Linked DNA regions of Homo sapiens: all the other regions are linked to region 2. The links come from fine-mapping of genetic effects on gene expression. A gene starts in region 2. Each other region holds a variant in brackets. All regions are shown on one strand. Distances are between the middles of the regions. Region 1 overlaps GNA12 (G protein subunit alpha 12). Region 2 holds the start of GNA12 (G protein subunit alpha 12). Region 3 overlaps GNA12 (G protein subunit alpha 12). Region 4 overlaps AMZ1 (archaelysin family metallopeptidase 1).

What was found. PIP is the estimated chance that this variant, and not a neighbour inherited with it, causes the effect. A credible set is the group of variants that fine-mapping cannot tell apart.
Region 1: its variant is the best candidate, but not a certain one, in a credible set for the expression of GNA12 in whole blood (TOPMed, PIP 0.62).
Region 3: its variant is the best candidate, but not a certain one, in a credible set for the expression of GNA12 in whole blood (TOPMed, PIP 0.87).
Region 4: its variant is the best candidate, but not a certain one, in a credible set for the expression of GNA12 in B cells (Fairfax 2012, PIP 0.59).

Annotation. Positions count from the first base shown.
Region 1 is chr7:2,769,445-2,774,590 of GRCh38, reverse strand. All of the region lies in intron 2 of GNA12 (G protein subunit alpha 12), which reads left to right. Among named protein-coding and RNA genes, the nearest start is that of GNA12, 72 kb to the left of the region's middle. RefSeq lists an enhancer at 1,615-1,664 and a silencer at 3,001-3,145. The variant A/G (reference allele first, on the strand shown) is at 3,152.
Region 2 is chr7:2,841,655-2,846,800 of GRCh38, reverse strand. It overlaps GNA12 (G protein subunit alpha 12), which reads left to right and starts at 2,493. Exons shown (of 4, transcript NM_007353.3): 1 at 2,493-2,948. The coding sequence starts at 2,640. RefSeq lists enhancers at 2,000-2,129, 2,112-2,406, 2,369-3,186 and silencers at 2,300-2,629, 2,970-3,019.
Region 3 is chr7:2,791,193-2,796,338 of GRCh38, reverse strand. It overlaps GNA12 (G protein subunit alpha 12), which reads left to right. Exons shown (of 4, transcript NM_007353.3): 2 at 1,196-1,411. Among named protein-coding and RNA genes, the nearest start is that of GNA12, 51 kb to the left of the region's middle. The variant C/G (reference allele first, on the strand shown) is at 2,485.
Region 4 is chr7:2,717,762-2,722,907 of GRCh38, reverse strand. It overlaps AMZ1 (archaelysin family metallopeptidase 1), which reads right to left. Exons shown (of 7, transcript NM_001384743.1): 7 at 3,225-5,146. Among named protein-coding and RNA genes, the nearest start is that of AMZ1, 32 kb to the right of the region's middle. The variant T/C (reference allele first, on the strand shown) is at 2,580.

The sequences.
Region 1 (5,146 bases), 72 kb after region 2:
ACCCCCCCTTTGCCTCGGCAAGCCCATCTCCTGCTCCCCTCCTCTCTGTCACTGCTGCAGGCGCACTGGCCTTCCTGCTGCTCCCTGCACACTCAGGGCCTCCCAGCGCCATCAGGGCCCTTGTGCTTGCTGTTCCTTCTGCCTGGAATGCACTTCCTCCTTTATCTCATCAAGGTTTTGACTCAGATGTTATCTTCATGAAATCTTACCTGACAATCTTGATTAAAGTCAAAACCGCACCCACCACTACCTATTACCTTTCCCTATTTCATTTAAAAAATGTTTTTATTGGAGAATTACATATATATACACACATATATATGCATGCATGTGTGTATATATGCATATACATGTATAGAAATAAAAGTGCATCTATATTAACTCAGTTTTCACAAACTGAGCAGATTGTGTGACCTGCCGCCAGCTCAGGAAACAATGACCTGTGCCCCAGAACCCCTTTCATCTTCACACCACCTTCTGCTCTCCAGAAGTAACCAGTTCTGACCGTGAACACCAGCTGTTCTGTAGAATGGGTATTTCTGCGTTGCTGCTTCATCTGTGGCCTCACACGGTATTTACTCCTGTGTTACTGGCTCCTTCTCGTCGCCATTTCGTTTTGTGCGGTTCTTCCAATTCTGCGGCACGTTCTTCCTTGTTGCTGCATGGTAATTCCATTTTGTGAATGTCCCGCAATTTAGTTCCCTGCCCTCCTGGTGATGGGCGTCCGGGTAGACGCCAGCTCAGCGTCATTACAAAAATGTTACTGTAGGTATTCAAGAACCTGTCTTTTGGTGAAGAGATGTAGGCATTTCCCTCAGGGCTGTCCAGGGGTGGACTTGCTGGGGCATCCAGGTGTGCCTGGGTTCAGTGTTCATGGATTTTTCACAGTGTTTGTATTTGTGCTCTACCAGCAGAGGCCAAGTTCCCATTACTCCACCTCATCACCAGTGCTTGTCCTCTTTTTCAAATAGCCATTCTGGTGGCCGTGTAGAGGTATCTCATTCTGGTTTTGTTTGTTTGTTTATTTTTGAGACTGAGTCTCACTCTGTCGCCCTGGCTGGAGTGCAGTGGTGTGATTTTGGCTCACTGCAGCCTCTGCCTCCCGGGTTCAAGCAATTCTCCTGCCTCAGCCTCCCGAGTAGCTGGGATTACAGATGCCCACCACCACGCCTGGCTAATTTTTGTATTTTAGTAGAGAAGGGGTTTTGCCATGTTGGCCAGGCTGGTCTCAAACTCCCAACCTCAGGTGATCACCCATGTCGGCCTCCCAAAGTGCTGGGATTACAGGCGTGAGCCACCGCCCCCAGCCTTGTTTATTTGTTTTAATTGAAGTATAATTTCTGTGTGCAAAATGCACAAATCTTAGGTGTATACAACACAATGAGATTTACGTATGTATCTACTCACACAGCCACCACCCACGTGAAAGAACATTTCAGCATCCAAGAAAGTCCCTCCCGCTGCTTCCCCATTGATACCACTCCTCCTGGTGACCACGCTAGTTTCACTTCCATCACTGTAGATTAGTGTTTTGCCTGTTTTTGAAGTTTGTTTAAATGGAATCGTTTAGCTGGCTTCTTTGCTTAATGACTGAGAGATTCATCTGTGTTGCTACGTGGATTGGTATTTTCTTCTTTTTTCTTTATAGCCTTCCATTAAATGAATACACCATAATTTATTTCTTCTCCTGTTCACAGACATGGTGTTTGTTTCTCGTTTTTGGCTACTGTGAGTAAAGCTGCTTTGAACATTCTTGGACAGGTCTCTTAATGGATATATGCACTGATTTCTCTTGGAAATATACCTAGGAGTGGGATTGCTGGGTTTGCCAACTATTTCTCCAAACTGGCCGTACTGGTTTATAGTCTCTCCAGCAGTGTGGGACAGTTAGTCCACGTTCTAACCAACACTTGGCATTGTCCTCTTGATTTTAAGCCTCCTGGTGGGTATCAATTGATGTTTTACTTTGCATTTCTAAGTAAGAACTTTCCTGACTAAATAAGTTTGGCACCTTTTTCTTTTTTTTTTTTTGAGATGGAGTCTCACTCTGTTGCCCAGGCTGGAGTGCAGTGGTGCGATCTTGGCTCACTGCAAGCTCCGCCTCCTGGGTTCACGCCATTCTCCTGCCTCAGCCTCCCAAGTAGCTGGGACTACAGGTGCCCACCACCACGCCCGGCTAATTTTTTGCATTTTTAGTAGAGACGGGTTTCACCATTTTAGCCAGGATGGTCTCGAGCTCCTGACCTCGTGATCCGCCTGCCTCTGCCTCCCCAAGTGCTGGGATTACAGGCGTGAGCCACTGCACCCAGCATGTTTGGCACCTTTTGTACATCTGTTGGCCAGTGGGATATCCTCTTCTATAACAGGTTTGTGCAAATCTTTTGCCCTGTTGGGTTGTTGGTCATTTTCTTGGGAATTCTCGATATGAGTCCTTTGTCAGATTATCCGGAATATGTAAAGAACTCTCAAAACTCAAGAAAACAATTTTTTTAAAAGGACAAAAGATTTGAACAAAGAAGAGATTCCTGAAGCAAATAACACATGAAAAGATGCTCAGTCGACGTCATCAGTCATGACACACATGCAGTTGAACACCGTGGTGAGACACCACATGCTCTCCTAGGAGGCTGCCCTTTGGAAGGCGACCACCCAAGGCACAGTGAGGGCGGGGGTGGGAACTCAGGCTCTCACACACCCCTGGTAGAAATGTGAAATGGTACTCCTGCTTTGGAAAAGCGGGGCACTTTCTTAAAAGTTAAACATACAATTATCACATGAGCTAGCCCTTCCACATGTAGATATTTACCAAAGAGAAGTGAAAATATTTGTCCACACAAAGACTTGCACACACATGTTTATGGCAGCTGAACATTGGGAACGTGGCCATCAACAAGCAGATGGATGAACAGACTGGGGTGCACCCTTCTGTGGGGATACTGCTCAGCCAGGAAAGGGAGCACCTGGTAACCTGCAGCATATGGGCGAATCTGGAAAGAATTGTGCCAAGTGCAGGAGGCCACACAAAGAAGGGAGTGTCCTCTAAGATCTGACTTACATGAGAATCTAGAATATGCAGACCAACATGGAGGGATAGATGCCGACCACGGGTTGCCTGGGCAGGAAGGGAGTGCAGGGGAGGGGAAGGGCTGAT[A/G]AGGCCACAGTGGGAGTTGTTTGGGTGTTTGCTCATGATCTTGGCTGTTATGATGGTCCCACAGCTGTATGCATATGTCAGAAGTCATCAGACTGGGCAAGTTCACTATGTGCGGTTTCGTTTTTTTGGTTTTTTGGTTTTTTTTGAGTGGCAGGGAGTCTTGCTCTGTCGCCCAGGCTGAAGTACAGTGGCGACATGTCAGCTCACGGCAACCTCCACCTCCCAGGTTCAAGCGATTCTCCTGCCCCGGCCTCCCGAGTAGCTGGGATTATAGGTGCCTGCCACCTCACCTGGCTAATTTTTGTATTTTTAGTAGAGACGAGGTTTCGCCATGTTGGTCAGGCTGGTCTTGAACTCCTAACTTCAAGTGATCCACCCACCTCAGCCTCCCAAAGTGCTGGGATTACAGGTGTGAGCCACGGCGCCTGGCCTTTTCTTTGATTTTAATAATTTGGTTTACTAAGTCTGTTCCCTGTCCATTTGCTCTGCAAGGAGTCATCAGAGCCTGGCGCTTGCAGTACCCCCAGGTCCACGTTTAGATGATCTTAAAACATTGCCATAATCTTGCACGATGGCCTTGCACTTAGGCAGTGCCAGTATTCCTATGGTATACAGTGAAGGGGCATTCGGTTTCAGTAACTCTGATTTGTAATCGTCCTACGTGGAAACACAAAGCAACAAGCACAGGATCCCATTAGCTCTGCTGCCCAGTGAAGCATCCATGTTGCTTTGTTTTTGTTTGTTCTTTTTCTTTCTTTCTTTCTGTGTGTTGTTTTGTTTTGTTTTGTTGTTGTTATTGTTGTTGAGATGGAGTCTCACTATGTGGCCCAGGCTGGAGCTCAGTGGCTTTTCACAGGCACGCTTATCGTAGCTCACTGCATCCTCAAACTCCTGGGCTCAAGAGATTTCCCCCACTTCAGCCTCCTGGGTAGCTGAGACTACAGGTGTGCACCACCACGCCTAGCTAACTCTAACTTAATCTAATGCCAACTCCAATGGACAAGCATTGCCCTGTCACAAGCCTAGCTGAACTATGTCAGAATTGAACTCTTTGAGCTTGATATGGTTCTAGAGGCTATTGAGCCTCAATTTGAGCCTAAATTTAAAATTGTGTGATCATTTAATTTAATTTCCAAACGGGACATGTTTATAAATAAAACAAGACCCTATTAAACAATTTTGCCAAGATGATTGACTCAAATTGGGACTCTCCAGGGCAAGTGGGGCATATGGTTATCCTGTTTATAGTATATTATGGCAGTGAACCTCAGTAAAGTCATACATTGTAGGTTTGTTTATTTGTTGCTATCTATGCAGTTGAATAATGTTGAGGATATATTTTATTTTCCTCACAGTACCAGGCCAGTCTATAGCTTGAATTGAATCTTAGCTCTGCATGTCACTATGATCTATTTTATTGTAACTTCCTATTATAAACCTTTAATTTTATAAAAGCAATTTTGAAAAAGTACTTGCCCCCCCATGATTTAAAAAAACAAAAACACTTAGACTTAAAATGTAATGACATATCACTTTTCACCCATCAAATTCAGAAAAAAATTCAATTGATAATATCCAGTGTGTTAAGGGTATAAAGAAGTGGGTATCTTAAACCCTTGTTCATTAGGATATAAATTGGTACAACCTTTTTGGGAGAGAATTTGGCCAGAGCTGTGTTTTTTTTGTTTGTTTGTTTTTGTTTTTTCTGAGACAGAGTCTCACTCTCTCACCCAGGCTGGAGTGCGGTGGTGCGATCTCGGCTCACTGCAAGCTCCACCTCCCGGGTTCGTGCCATTGTCCTGCCTCAGCCTCCTGAGTAGCTGGGACTATAGGCGCCTGCCACCACGCCCGGCTAATTTTTTGTATTTTTTTTAATAGAGACGGGGTTTCACCGTGTTGGCCAGGATGGTCTCAATCTCCTGACCTCGTGATCCGCCGACCTCGGCCTCCCAAAGTGCTGGGATTACAGACATGAGCCACCGTGCCCAGCCGGCC
Region 2 (5,146 bases):
AGGTTTCACCATGTTGGCCAGGCTGGTCTCAAACTCCTGGCCTCAAGTGATCTGCCCACCTCAGCCTCACAAAGTGCTGGGATTACAGCCTCACAAAGTGCTGGGATTACATGGTGTGAGCTACCATGCCAGACCTAGTATTTGGCCTTCCCGTTTTTGTTTTTTTTTTTTTGTTTTTTTGAGGCAGAGTTTTGCTCTTGTTGCCCAGGCTGGAGTGCAATGGTGCGATCTCGGCTCACTGCAACCTCCGCCTCCCGGGTTCAATCAATTCTCCTATCTCAGCCTCCCCAGTAGCTGGGATTACAGGCGCCCGCCACCACACCCAACCAAGTTTTGTATTTTTTAGTAGCGACAGGGTTTCGCCATGTTGGCCAGGCTGGTCCTGAACTCCTGACCTTAGATAATCTGCCTGCCTTGGCCTCCCAAAGTGCTGGGATTACAGGCATGAGCCACCGTGCCCAGCCATATTTGGCCTCCTATGGGAGGTCATTTCCACAAACAAGCAAGACTTTCTAATCATTTTCCAAGGATTACAAAATCTTGACTCATAAGTGATACAAATTCATGGCATGATTTGTAGTATTTGTAGCAAGTGACAAATAATACATATTATGTGCATTCAAGGTTGTCAGGGAGTTGGTTTTTGTTTTGTTTTGTTTCTGAAACAGGGTCTTGCTCCGTTGTCCAGGCTGGAGTACAGTGGCACGATCATAGGTCACTGCACCCTTGACCTCCTGGGCTCAAGTGATCCTCCCACCTCAGCATCTCAAACTGCTGGGACTGTAGTTGTGAGTCACCGTGCCCAGCCTTCTGGGGAGTTTAGATCTGTGACTAAGCAAAAAGAACAAATCTGGAGGCATCACTTTACCTGACTTCAAACTATACTATAAGGCTATCGTCACAAAAACAGCATGGTACTAATATAAAAATAGGCACAGAGACCAATGGAACATAATAGAGAACCCAGAAATGAAGCCAAATACTTACAGCCAACTGATCTTCAACAAAGCAAATGAAAACAAAGTGGGGAAAGGACAGCCTATTCAGCAAATGGTGCTGAGATAATTGGCAAGCCACATGTAGAAGAATAAAACTGGATCCTCGTCTCTCACGTTATACAAAAATCAACTCAGGATAGATCAAAGACTTAAATCTACAACCTGAAACCATAAACATTCTAGAAGATAACATCGGAAACATCCTTCTAGACGTTGGCTTAGGCAAAGACTTTGTGACCAAGAACCCAAAAGCAAATGCAACAAAAACAAAGATAAATAGATGGGACTTAATTAAACTAAAAAGCTTCGGCACTGCAAAAGAAATAATCAGCAGAGTTAACAGACACCGCACAGAGATTGGACTTTGGGGACTCAGGGTAAAAGGTGGGGGGTGGCGAGAGATAAAAGACTACACACTGGGCCAGGCGCGGCGGCTCACGCCTTTAATCTTAAGGGATACCTGAGCTCCTTCTAGGAGGTTCTGATTCAGTAGATCTGGGAGAGTCAAGAATCTGTAATCAGCTGATCTCTATCAAGAGCTGATTTTGGGCTAGCTCACGTGCTAAGTGTTTGGTAAGTTCATGTTCTCAGTTTATATCTTCATGACGATTTGAGCAATGTCAAGCCATAACCAATGTCGTCAATGACACCCCCGTTTTACAGATGAGGAAACGGAAGCTAAGAACATCCAAAAGGGTTTGTTGGGGGGGGTGGGGAAAGCTGCTAAAAAAAGTTATGCAACTAGTACACCTAGTAACTGGTCGACTGGAGATTCCAACTCAGGCCCAGCAACTCCAGACCCCACTCTCTCAATCACTGTGAGACATAAGACTTTTGGGGGAGCTTCTGGTGATTTTAGTGATTAGTCAGCTTTTCGCAAAGCCTCCTAGAAGCCCATGCCACTCTCAAAGGGTGCATGTGTTTGAAATTTATGGCCCATCCCCCTCCAGTGTTTCTGGAAGGAAAATAGTGTAGAAACAAGATCATCGGAGGGAATACGACGAGCAGCTGAACCTCTTATCAGCATTTCCCAGCCTTTGGGCTACTCCGCGAGGTCCTGGTCTCACAGGCGGACCCAATCTGGGAACCAAGGGAGAATCTTTCTGTACACCTGGCACTTCTCGTCACGCCCCGTCCCCCGAACACCCAATCCAAAGCCCGTTGGGCACGTCTGATGTCCACTCAGAGCAATTATAATTGGCCATGGCGGACGATCGCTCCGCCTCCCGGGCGACCCCGCCTCCCTTTCATTCTGAAAGAAAGAACCTCAGCCTGGGCGTCCAATGAGAAGCGCCTTCACCTCAAAGATCCCGCCTCTTTCGGCGTCGACCCCGCCCCGAGGCCGGAAGGGATGCCCGCCTCCCTTGGCGAGATGAGCCAATCGAAGGGCTCTCACGGCCAGATGGACGGCAGCCGGCCCAATCCGCCGGGCCTCACGCGGCGCCGCCCGCCCCTCCGCCGGGCCCGAGTGGCGGCCGGGCGACGAGTGCGGGCCTCGGAGCGACTGCAGCGGCGGCGGCGGACGCGGCCTGAGGCGAGCGGCGGGGCGTGGGGCGGTGCCTCGGCCCGGGCTCGCCCTCGCCGGCGGGAGCGTCCATGGCCCCCGGGCGCCGGCGGGGCGCGGCCGCGGCCTGAGGGGCCATGTCCGGGGTGGTGCGGACCCTCAGCCGCTGCCTGCTGCCGGCCGAGGCCGGCGGGGCCCGCGAGCGCAGGGCGGGCAGCGGCGCGCGCGACGCGGAGCGCGAGGCCCGGAGGCGTAGCCGCGACATCGACGCGCTGCTGGCCCGCGAGCGGCGCGCGGTCCGGCGCCTGGTGAAGATCCTGCTGCTGGGCGCGGGCGAGAGCGGCAAGTCCACGTTCCTCAAGCAGATGCGCATCATCCACGGCCGCGAGTTCGACCAGAAGGCGCTGCTGGAGTTCCGCGACACCATCTTCGACAACATCCTCAAGGTGACGCGCGCCCCCCGCCCAGCACCTGCACCCAGGTGGGCCGGGGCGCTAACCCCCGCCCCGGGCCCCTCCGTGGTCCGCCGCCGCGGGCGGGGACCCCTGGGGCGAGGATGCTGGATCCAGCCCCGCCTGCACCCCACTCCCCCCCGACCCATTCCCCGAGGCCTGCTGGCGTCGTCTCTGCCCCACCCCGTCTCGCCCTTTTTGAGATGGGGTCTCGCTGTGTTTCCCAGGCTTGAGTGCAGTGGCGCCCTCACAGCTCACTGCAGCCTCGACCTCCCAGGCTCAAGCCCTACTCCCTCCTTAGCCTCCCGAAGTAGTGGGATTACAGGCGCGCACCACCAGCCCAGCTAATTTTTAAGTTTTTTTTTGTAGAGATGGGGTCTTGCTGTGTTGCCCAGGCTGGTCTCAGTCTCCTGGCCTCAAGTGATCCTCCTGCCTTGGTCTCCCTCAAGTGCTGGGATTATAGGCATGAGTCATGGCGCCCGGTCTGCCTCTGCCCTCTCTAGGGTGCCTGGGGACCGTGGGAGTGGGAACTCGGGCCAGCTTCTGGGGATGGGGAGTGGGGGCTTGGCACTTAGCCCCCTCCTGGATGTGCCCTAGCAGAATGGTATCTGTCCATTTCCCACTGGAAGATTTGTGGGATAGGAGCCCAACCGGCCGTGCCCTCCGGCTGAGCTTAGAAGAAGAGCAGTGGAGACTGGACGGGAACCAGCCATGAGTCTCTTTTTACTTTTCTGTTTTTTTAGAAAGGCTCTCACTCTCTTGCCCAGGCTGGTCTCAAGCCATCCTCCCACCTGGGCCTCCCAAAGTGCTGAGATTACAGGTGTGAGCCACACTTTCTAATACGAAAACTTCAAATGTATACAAAAGTAGAGAAAATAGTAGATTGACTGTAAAGTACCTACAGCCCAACTAAAGCAGTCATCAATTCTGTGCCAATCCTATTCACCTGTGCCCTCCCCATGGTCTCCAAGCAAATCCAACTTTGTGTAGTTGGATTAGGAAACGTTTTAGGATGTATATGAGTGGCTAAAAGATGAGGCCTCCATGTAAAAACACAACCGCAGTACCATTAGCAAACCTAAACATTAGTAATAGCTCATTATCACCAGATATCCAGTGTTCAGAATTCCTCCATTGTGGCATAATTGTTTTGTGTGACTCGACATGCATTGCAATGAATCTCCAGATTCTCCTGTCTCTTGCTTCCTTTTTTCTCTTCGCCATATTTGTGAAAGAAGCTGTAGAAGTCGGCCAGGTGTGATGGCTCGTGCCTGTAATCCCTGCACTTTGGGAAGCTGAGGCAGGAGGATCACTTGAGGCCAGAAGTTTGAGACCAACCTGGGCAACACAGCAAGACCTCAGTGCCACAAAAATGAACACATTAGTTGGGCATGGTGGAATGCACCTGTAGTCCCAGTTGCTTGAGCGGCTGAGGTAGGAGAATTGGTTGAGCCTGGGAGGTTGAGGCTGCAGTGAGCCATGTTTGGGCCACTGCACTCCAGCCTGAGTGGCAGTGAAAAAAAATAAAAGAACCATAGAGTTGATAAAGTCGGGGTTCCAGTCTCTCAGTACCGTGAGCCTGTGTTAAAGGGCCTCAAGGAAGATCTGGAGGAAACTGATGATGAGGGAACAGTGCAGCCTTGCTTACACCTAGATAGCGTCCTTTGTCCTCCCTCCCTTTTTCCTTCCTTCCTTTCCTTCTTTTCTTTCCTTCCTTTCTTTTCTTCCTCCCTTCCCTTCCTTCCTTTCCTTCCTTTCCTTCCCGCCTTCCTTTTCTTCCTTTCTTTCTACCTTCCTTCCTTTTTTCTTTTCTTCCTTCCTCCCTTCCTTTCTCCCTCCCTCCCTACCTCTCTACCCTTTCCTTGTCCCCTCACCACTTTTTCCCCAGCCCATTTTGGGGAAACCAAGTTAGAGGCGAGGACAATCATCTCAAAGCAGAGTCGGAGAGAAGTTTGCCATGCCAGAAAACCTGCCTGGAGACTAGGTTTTATGGTGCCTGGGAGATTTTAAATTTAGCAAAGCCCCGTAGAAACCTATCGGGTACATTTGTATCACTTACCCATAAGGACTCCTGCCTCAGCCCTAGAGATGAAGTGACTCCTTCCTGGGGTCTCTGTGCTGGAATCCTGGCCTCCAGACTTCCAGGCCAGTATTCGCACTTGACATACTTCTCATGGAAATGTTTCATTTTA
Region 3 (5,146 bases), 50 kb after region 2:
CTTTCATGACAGTATATTGTTATAATTGTTGTATTTTATTATTAGCTATTATTAATCTCTTACTGTGCCTAATTCATAAATTAAATTAAACTTTAAAAACAATACAGGTAGGGCTTGGTACCGTTCAGACATCCACTGAGGGTCTTGGAACTTATGCCACGGATAAGGGGTGGAGGCTACTATAGTTGTTGTTAAAACATTGTTTTTTTGGCGGGGAGGCTGAGGCGGGCGGATCAGCTGAGGTCAGGAGTTCGAGACCAGGCTGGACAACATGGTGGAACCCCCCTCTCTACTAAAAATACAAAAATTAGCAGTCCGTGGTGGTCTGTAATCTCAGCTAAAAATAAAAAATTAGCCGGGCCTGGTGGCAGGTACCTGTAATCCTAGCTACTTAGGAGGCTGAGGCAGGAGAATTGCTTGAACCTGGGAGGCGGAGGTTGCAGTGAGCCGAGATCACTCCATTGCACTCCAGGCCAGGGCAAAAAGAGTGAAACTCCATCTAAGAAAAAAAAAAAAAAAAAAGTTGTTTTTTTACTGATACACTTCATTTTCCAGTGAAATTTTCTGAAATTGTTGCCACCTCCTCCCCGCCCAGTTGTCTTTTTTCCAGTAGCTTTGCAAATGAATGATAGCAGAAAGCAGACTTCTTTCTGTGGTGCTTATGTACATCTGTTTTCTTTTTTTTCTTTTTTCTTTTCTTTTTTTTTTTTTGAAACAGGGTCTTGCTCTGTTGCCCAGCCTAGAATATAGTGCAGCAATCATAGATAACCGTAGCCTTGACCTCCTGGGCTCAAGCAATCCTCCCCGCTCAGCTGAGACTACAGGTGTGCCACCACCAAGCCCAGCTGTTTTTAATTTGATTTAATTTTTTGTAGAAGCAGGGTCTTGCTCTGTTGCCCAGGCCGGTCTCAGACTCCTGTGTTCCAGCAGTCCTCCCTCTTTGGCCTCCCAAAGGGGAGGCTCACAGTGTGAGCCACTGCTCTCGGCCATGTGCGTCTGTCTTGGTGAGGTTATACTGCTGAGAGTTAAGACTTTCCACATCACAACAAACAAACCAAGAGACAGACTCAGGCTGCACAGCTCAGAGCTTGTGAGTTTTCTGCGTTATGACAATGGATGCCCATTTTGAGCTTCTCTAGCGTGGTTTAGTCTTTGGAATGCAATTAAATCCTCTCTTCTTTCTTTTATTTTCTAGGGCTCAAGGGTTCTTGTTGATGCACGAGATAAGCTTGGCATTCCTTGGCAGTATTCTGAAAATGAGAAGCATGGGATGTTCCTGATGGCCTTCGAGAACAAGGCGGGGCTGCCTGTGGAGCCGGCCACCTTCCAGCTGTACGTCCCGGCCCTGAGCGCACTCTGGAGGGATTCTGGCATCAGGGAGGCTTTCAGCCGGAGAAGCGAGTTTCAGCTGGTGAGTGAGTAGGCCTTCTTGCTGGGCACCTGATAGTGTGTTTTTTACATGACTATTTTGGACCGTTAGTTGAATTTCCTTAAAAACTGTGTAACAGTCCAAGCAAGCTCTAAATCACCGTAAGTTGTAATGATCAACAACCAAAACACGGGATGGAGGCAGATGCTATATAAAAGGCTCAAGAGGGGAAGGAGCAAGAGCCACTCAGGTAAGATCAATAGCTTTCTTCTGGGAATACGGAGGGTTCTTAGAATCATCAGCATTGGCACAACCCGAGAAATTTAGTTTTTTTTAGAGATCTTGTTCATAGTAGGAAATAACACCCCCCACAACAGCTTCCCACTTTGGACCTGTGGGTATGGGCAACTCACGAACGCCTTCAGATCAGCGCCTCGGAAGCAAATCCAACTCCTCCCAGTTGTTCCCTTCAGATTTGTTCCTTTCGTTTTAAGGTCTAAAAACTTCACAAAGCCCAGTTATTTAGATTCATTTGGGGTCTGAATCTATAACCAGAAAATCTGGGGGGTTTTGCCTGTTTGCTTTTTGTTTTTTTCTACCTTTCAAAATTAACCGTATATAAAGTAAAATGTACAATTTTTCTGATAACCAGCATAAATGTGCACAGCTGATATTAATACACACCCAGGGTATCCAGAAATGCCTCTCACTCTCACAGCCGTTTGCCCCCTTAGCACCCAGAGTCAAGTTGAAGTCATGAATCCTTTGCCGTTCTTATGATTTTGCCATAATACCCATTTATTATTTGTAAACACGACAGTCTTGAGTTTTACTGATTCTTAACCTTCATATAAGTCATTTCTTAGTGTATAGTATATATGCTTCTGTGACTTGCCTTTTTCACTCCACATGTTGGAATTTCATCAGGCGAGGCACATAGCAGCGGTTCTTCCCTTTTCACTGCTGTCTGATGCTCCACTGTGGAAAGATACTAGGATCCATTCCTTCTTTCATTGAGGTACTTTTGAACTGTTTTTCATATTTTGCTATTGGAAACGTCTTTTTTTTTCCTTTTTTTTTTTTTTTTTGAGATGGAGTCTCGCGCTGTTGCCCAG[C/G]CTGGAGTGCAGTGGCGCCATCTCAGCTCACTGCAACCTCCACCTCTGGATTCAAGTGATTCTCCCACCTCAGCCTCCCGAGTAGCAGAGACTGTAGGCACCCACCACCACACCAGCTAATTTTTATATTTTTTAGTGGAGATGGAGTTTTACCATGTTGGCCAGGCTGGTCTCGAACTCCTGGCCTCAGGTGATCCACCCGCCTCGGCCTCCCAAAGTGCTGGGATTTCAGGTGTGAGCCACCATGCCCCACCCTATTCATATCTTTTACCCATCCTTTTCCTGCAGAGTAATTTTTATTTTTCTCAATCATCTGAGAGGTGCTATATAGTCTGCTAATAGTCCCCTCAGTTCAATTTCCTTATATTCTTCTCCCAAGTCCCCCTAATGTTAACATCTTAACCACTATACAACTATTAAAACTAAGAAGTTGACATCGGTATGAAAGCATCAATTAACTGTAGACCTTGTCTGAATGTGACCCACCTTTCCTCTTGCGCTCCTGTCCGCTGCTTCCTCTCGCGTCCTGTCCGCTGCTTCCTCTCGCGTCCTGTCCGCTGCTTCCTCTCGCGCTCCTGTCTGCTGGATCCTGGCCTGGAATCCCCCATTGTGTTTAGTCATTGTGTCCCCTTGGTCTCTTGCAGTCCATGATAGCTCCTTGATCTTTCCTTGCCTTTCATGACCTTGACATGTCCAGAGCACTGGCCAGGTATTGTGTAGAATCTTCCTGTTTGGGTTTGTCTGGTATTTTCTCGTCATCAGGATGAGGGGATGCATTTTTTTGGCACAGAAACCGCAGGCGTGCCGTTGAGCCCTGCTCAGATCATCTGATCAGGAAGTGCGTGATATTGTCCAGTGGCTGGTGATGCAAGCCTGGGTTGCTTGGTTGAGGCACTGTTGGCCACCTTTCTCCACTGGGAAGTCAGTATTTTCTCTGTGTTGTTAACACATATCTTAGGGAGATACATTGAGACCCTGCAAATAGCCTGTTTCTCCTCAGGCTTTTGCCTGTAAATGTTAATGTCCTCCAGGGCATCTTAAGGATGACGTTTTTACTAGCCCCTTTCCATCTGCACATTCCTTCTCAAGTTAACTTTAACAGTTAAGGTAAAAGAATCAAAAGAGAGTGGAAGATGTGGTTGCGGTAGAAAGGAAATTTTAATCTCCTAAAGAGCAGGGCTGGAAGAAACAATTGGGAAATACATGTCAGTATCTCAATGTGAAATTGAGGTTTACACCTTTTCCCCATACACTCACAGAGTCTGGGAAAGAAGATTCTCATTCATTTAGAACTTGGATGGAAATTGAGGATTTTCCAAAGAAGGAAGCAGAAGTGTCTGGGGCTGATCGTACTGAGTGAGGCTTCTGTCTGGGATTCGGCATGGTGCAGCAGCTTTGACAGGCTTCTGTCTTTGCCCTGTTCCGTCAGTGCAGGGTGTCAGTGCTGGAAGGGACCTCCCAATTTAGGAAGTCAAGCCCTTGTATTGTCACGACATGGAAGTAAGCCCGTACCAGTTATGCTGTGCCTGAGGCCACATCATCTTGGTAATCACTGTGAGAAATTTGGGCCTCAAAGCCCAGTCTGCTTGTTTCTCCCCTTCTTCACTCATTCATTCATTCATTCTGCATTCATGGATCACCTACTGTGTGAGACCCGGTGCTACATGCTGGGGATATAGCAGTGAAGAAGACCAAACATGAGCCTGTCTCCAGCGAGTGAGCTTTTAATCTAGACGTGCACTTGGCGGGTGATTAGGGTAAGGTGGCCACAGGTGGGTCAGTAGTCGTCCCTTTGGTTCGATCTTATGCTTCAGACCATGAGACTTTGTGAAGATACAGAAAATATACTGTTGTAGTCAGTGATGCATTTGTAAAGTCTGTAATAATCAGATGCAGAGATGATGATGTGAAATTCTTGTTTATTGGGTGGTGGGTGCATGACTGTTATTCCTATACTTTATACATTTGCCCTTCTTTTTATTCTTCAAAAAAAATGATGGAGCATTTTATTAAAATAGCTAGATAGTAGGACCCTAATAGTCGTTGTTGTCAAAATACACAATTACAGCAAAACTGAAAGACCATACCCATCTGAAGTCACCGTTACCAGGGCTCCCTCCCCCACCCCTGCAGTAGACCCTTGTTTCTCTTCCAATCTTTTCCTGAGTGTCAAAGCTTTTCTAGGGCAATGCTTCATCACCTTGTTTTTTGCTTGTCTTTCTTCCCCAGCTGACAGCATTTGACAGTCCCTGTGAAGAGCTGCAGCTGCTTTGAGAATTGCTGTCAGCCAGGTACTAGGCGCCTCCCTGTTCCCTCTGCCGTCTTGCTTTTTCCTGCCATTCCAGTCAGAGATAGAAACAAAAAGAGGAGGAAAAAAGGCTGTGTCTGGTGATTACCTTGTGACGACCCTTTCTCCTCTGAGAGGAGCAGGGTGGGCCGGGGTGGGGGATGGAAATCTTCCCTTTCCATAGGGGAGGCAGCCTGGCCGCCTTCCCCACTGGCCCCTTGCCATGCCTGGCCATTGCTGTCCACTGCTGGTCACAGACAGCAGACACCCCATGAGCATCACTTCTGTGGCTCAGTTAAAAGGAAGATGATCTCGCCATGTTAGACCTTATCTTCCAAAACACAGTTAAGTAAGACAGAGCAGGATGCTCAACAG
Region 4 (5,146 bases), 120 kb after region 2:
CTCCTGGGCTCAAGCAGTCCTCCCACCTTGGCCTTCCAAGTAGCTGGGACCACAGGCATGTGGCCACCACCCGCACCTGGCTAATTTTTAAATTTTGTATAGAGATGGAGTCTCACTGTGTTGCCCAGGCTGGTGTTGAACTCTTGGCCTCAAGTGATCCTCCCACCTCAGCCTTCCTGAAGTGCTGGGATTACAGGCATGAGTCGCTGCACCCAGTCTGGGTTCTTAACAAGCCTATGCAAAATTTAAAATCTCTGTTGCATCTGTCAGTCTCGAATCTCAAAAAATTACCTTTTGACCTGTCAGGCAAATTGGTTTAAAACATTCAAAATGTCCTGGCTGGGCACGGTGGCTCACGCCTGTAATCCCAGCACTTGGGGAGGCTGAGGCGGATGGATCACGAGGTCAGGAGATCGACACCATCCTGGCTAACACGGTGAAACCCCGTCTCTGCTGAAATATAAAAAATTAGCCGGGCATGGTGGCGGGCGCCTGTAGTCCCGGCTACTTGGGAGGCTGAGGCAGGAGAATGGCATGAACCCGGGAGGCAGAGCTTGCAGTGAGCCGAGATCGCGCCACTGCACTCCAGCCCAGGCGAGAGAGCGAGAGTCTGTCTCAAAAAAAAAAAAAAAATTCGAAATGCCCTTTTTCTTAACTCCATTTGAACCAGCTCACATCGATGGGCACAAGCGTCGCCAGGAAATTCAGTGTGGTAAGCTTGGCACCTACTCATGGCCACCGTGTCCTGAACTCCCTTTCCTGTGCTCAGGCCCCAGCCCACGCAGCAGGAGGACACACTGCCGAAGGGACCAGTTGGACGGCCTTCTGGCTTTAGCGCCTGTGCCTTTCAGGACCTTAAATACAGAAAGGAACCGAGTGCTCTGTGCAGCCCCTCCAAGACGGTCGCTACAGCGCCAGCACCACCTGCGCCGGGCCATCATGCCGTGACCGGACTTGGTTTACGAATACAGTGTACGAGGTTAAGATATGATAAAGTGTAAAAATATATGTTATAGCCACGGTGGTTAGTTTAACATGTTTTGTATATATGATTTTTATAAATCTATTAAAATGTGCCTTAAATTACACCTGTTTTCCTGGCGTGTTATGTCCCTGCCTCCCCCGCCACTGCTGAGAAGTGGGGGGCCCCTGAGTGTGGCACCCACCCGCCGCTATCTTTTTTTTTTTTTTTGAGACGTAGTCTCGCTCTGTTGCCCAGGTTGGAGTGCAGTGTCGCGATCTCGGCTCACTGCAACCTCCACCTCCCAGGTTCACACCATTCTCCTGCCTCAGCCTCCCAAATAGCTGGGACTACAGGCATCTGACACCACACCTGGCTAATTTTTTGTATTTTTAGTAGAGACAGGGCTTCACCGTGTTAGCGAGGATGGTCTCGATCTCCTGACCTCGTGATCCACCCACCTCAGCCTCCCAAAGTGCTGGGATTACAGTGACCCACTGCGCCCAGCCCACCTACTGCTTTCAAACAGAAGAATGTGTGTGGCAGTGGATTCTGCAGCATGCGTCGCATCCACGGGCTTCCAGAGTGCGTTCCACCGTGGGGCAAGCACCTTTCCCGAAGCAGAGGCCTCCTCACATCTTCCACACATCTGCGGTGCGCGGCAGGAGAGTGAGGTGAGCGCTCAGCACAGGGCCCGGCTCAGGCCTTAGTCCCTGTGCTTCCACTCCTGAGCTCCACCCTCCCCTGGCCTTTCCATCCCTCCCAGGCACAGGCGTCCTGGGTTGCTCTTCCTCCCGGCATTGGCAGGAACCTCCCGCGCCACCCAGTGTGTCTTCAATAGAGTCGGTCGTTTTGCAGCTGCTGGTCGCCACCACCAGACCTGTGGGCGTAAGGCAGGCAGCCAGCGATGACAGCCCGCAGGGTCACACAGGAAACATGCTGTGACATTCGTATAAACAGAAATAACGGGCTGGGCGTGGTGACTCACACCTGTAATCCAGGCACTTCGTGAGCCCGAGGCAGTAGGATTGCCTGAGCCCAGGAGTTCAAAACCAGCCTGGGCAACGTGGCTGAAACCCTGTCTCTACCAAAAACAAGTTTTTAGTTAGCTCAGTGTAGAGATACACACCTGTAGTCCAGCTACTTAGGAGGCTGAGGCAGGAGAGTCGCTTGAGCCCAGGCATTTGAGATAAGCCTGGGCAACATAGCAAGACCCCTGTATCTAAAATAATTTTTTTTTTTTAAAGGCTGGGCGCAGTGGCTCACACCTATAATCCCAGCATTTTGGGAGACTTCGGTGTTTCACTTGAGGTCAGGAGTTCAAGACCAGCCTGGCCAGCACGGTAAAACCCCGTCTCTACTAAAAAATACAAAAATTAGCCAGGCTTGGTGGCAGGCGCCTGTAGTCCCAGCTACTTGGGAGGCTGAGACAGGAGAATCGTTTGAACCCAGAAGGCGGAGGTTGCAGTGAGCCAAGATCGCACCACTGGACTCCAGCCTGGGCAACACAGACTCTGTCTCAATAAATAAAAATTCAAAAAAATAATGATCCCCTCCAGCCCCCAAAACACACACTAGTCTTTCTCTTTTTGTCACAGCGCATAAAAAGTGTTCACCC[T/C]GACGTGGGGAGACATGGAAACGGGGAGTGAACATTTGTGAAGTGACTCTTCATTTGACAGGTGTTTTAAAAGCCTCCAGCAGTGACTAAGTGTTTGTGGATGGGCGTCCGCGTGGGTAGATGAACCGGTCCATGTCAGCAGAGGAGCCGAGTCTCAGAGGGGAGCCGCGCTTTGCACGGAAAGCTCTGCAGCAGTGCGTGGCAGCCCTGTCGGTAGGTTCCCGTCGGCTCCTTGCCTTCTCAAATGCAAGGAATTGCTTATCGAATTCAACAGACACATTCTCTTTTCATTTAGCCTTCCAGAATTTCATCCTCTTCGTTTAAGCCCTTTTTAAAATTTGGAGTTGAGGCTGGGCACGGTGGCTGACGCCTGTAATCCTGGCACTTTGGGAGGCCAAGGCGGGTGGATCACGAGGTCAGGAGTTTGAGACCAGCCTGGCCAAGGTGATGAAACCCCATTTCTACTAAAAATACAAAAATTAGCCGGGCATGGTGTGGCAGGCACCTGTAATCCCATCTACGTGGGAGGCTGAGGCAGGAGAATCGCTTGAAACTGGAAGGCAGAGGTTGCAGTGAGCCAAGATCACACCATTGCACTCCAGGCTGGGCAACAAGAGCGAAACTCCATCTCAAAAAAAAAAAAAATTGGGGTTGATAGCATTTATTAATTTTGAGAATGAAAATGTAAGATGTAAGCATTATAGAAAAGCTGAGTAACAATTTATTTTGTATATCAAAGTCGTCCATCAGTCATTGCAGTATAAAATGTTCCAGGTGTATTTCCACTTGGACTGGATTTTTAAAAATAACTGTGCCATACAATCGAGCGGTGATCAAAGCTCATGTAATTAGGGCTAAGTCGTTCCCGTTGGGAGAGGCTATTGTGGGACTTGTGCGTCGGGCCAAGGGATGCTCTGGGCTCTGCTGTTGGAGCAGAGGAGGGAGCTCTGCCAGGCGCGCGGGCCTTTGCCCTCTTTAGGCATTGCTCCTGCTTGGGGGTCCGTGACAGACATCAGGTTATGCCATCAAGAGCCCCACGTGAAACAACTGCCTCCAAGTGGTGCAGGCGGGAGAGGCGGCCGGAGGATGGCAGGAATAAAGAGACACCCCCCTTCCGACAGGGGCCACCTGCCGTTCTGTCGGAGGAGTTGGGTTGGCAGCCGACAAAGCTGCTGCCCGCATCCTGCCCATCCAGTAAAGGCCTCGAGCCCTCACAAGGGGGCGCCCAAGAGGACGGCCACCACCCACCCAGAAGGGCACAGGTAGAATGTGGTAGAAGTTTGATCTCACTTCAGATGGGGGGGAAAAAAAAAAAAAAAAGTCGCCTGTTCTTGCAGCTTCCCTCCCTCTTTCCTTCCTGCTCATACATTTGGAATAAATGGCCGGAGCTCTCCTGTACCCCTGCCTGTGTTAAGCGACCCTGAGAAAAGCGTGTTCTCTGCCTCTTCCAACCCACTCCGTTTCCCGTGGTTTCTGTGACTCCCCTGTTCCCAGAGGCCTACCCCAGGTGGGCAGAGCACAGGGAGAGGAAGTCCCTGAGAGCCGGACGCAGCTCGGCCCTGGCCTGCCCGCTTCTCCCTGACCACAAGACCAAGCCCGGCTGCACAAGCCCTGTCCTGTTAGAAGGGACAGTGGAGCTCCTACGTGAGAAAGTGTTGGAAGAAATGGTGAAGAGTCCACTGCCTTCTGCTGCTGAAAGCCTGACCGAGAGGGGCGTCGGCTTCAGACTGGACCCCACACTGCCCCCGGGAGCCGTCAGCCGCGCTCATCACCTTCGTCCACGTGCCAGGTGAGTGGGCGCCCGCGGCTGCCACCAGCGTCCAAGAGTCAGGGCTGAACAAAACACGTCCCCATTCATTCCCGCTGGTCACAGACCACTGAAGGAGGCCCACGAGACAGACTCACAAAGCGCGGTGAGGGCCCTTGAACGGGAGATGGTCTTGGACTCGAGAAAGACGTGTTGGCCTTTGCTGAGAAGGGGCGGTTCAGTCATGCTGTATCCAGAAAACCAGGCACACTGTGGCGGGCAGAGCACCCTGCCTGAGAGAGAAAATGGACACTGGGCCCACAGTCAGGAGAGCCAGAGCTCTCGGCATCAGAGGAGCCCCAGGGTGGAGCCACGTGACTCCATGCCGGGCTCAGTTTCCATGTGACAGAAGTGCGTTCATTAAAAAGCCCAGGGAGCAGGCATCGAGGGAGGCCTCAGTGGTGGAATCTGGTAGGTGTCGTCTCTGGTTAATCTTGCGAGAGCTCGGGCCCCTCTCAGAGAGGGCAGGAGGTTGGACGGGCCTGGCTGCCGCGGACCCTCTGAGGGCCATTGTGGAGCCGCCGGGGGAGGCAGGGGCCGCCGTGTTTGCTCGACTCCGGTGACTATTTGGATTTGCCTCATCGTCACGGGAACACTGCAGCGGGGAAGAGTTGGACTGAACGCGTGGTGACCCCAGGACGCTTCTTGGAAATTGCTTTTTAAAATAAACCCCTGACATCAGCCTGTTTTCATTTGCCTCCCTACCCAAGAAGCTGAGTTCAAAAATAAACCTCCATTCTTCCGGGTTCTCATTCATCAA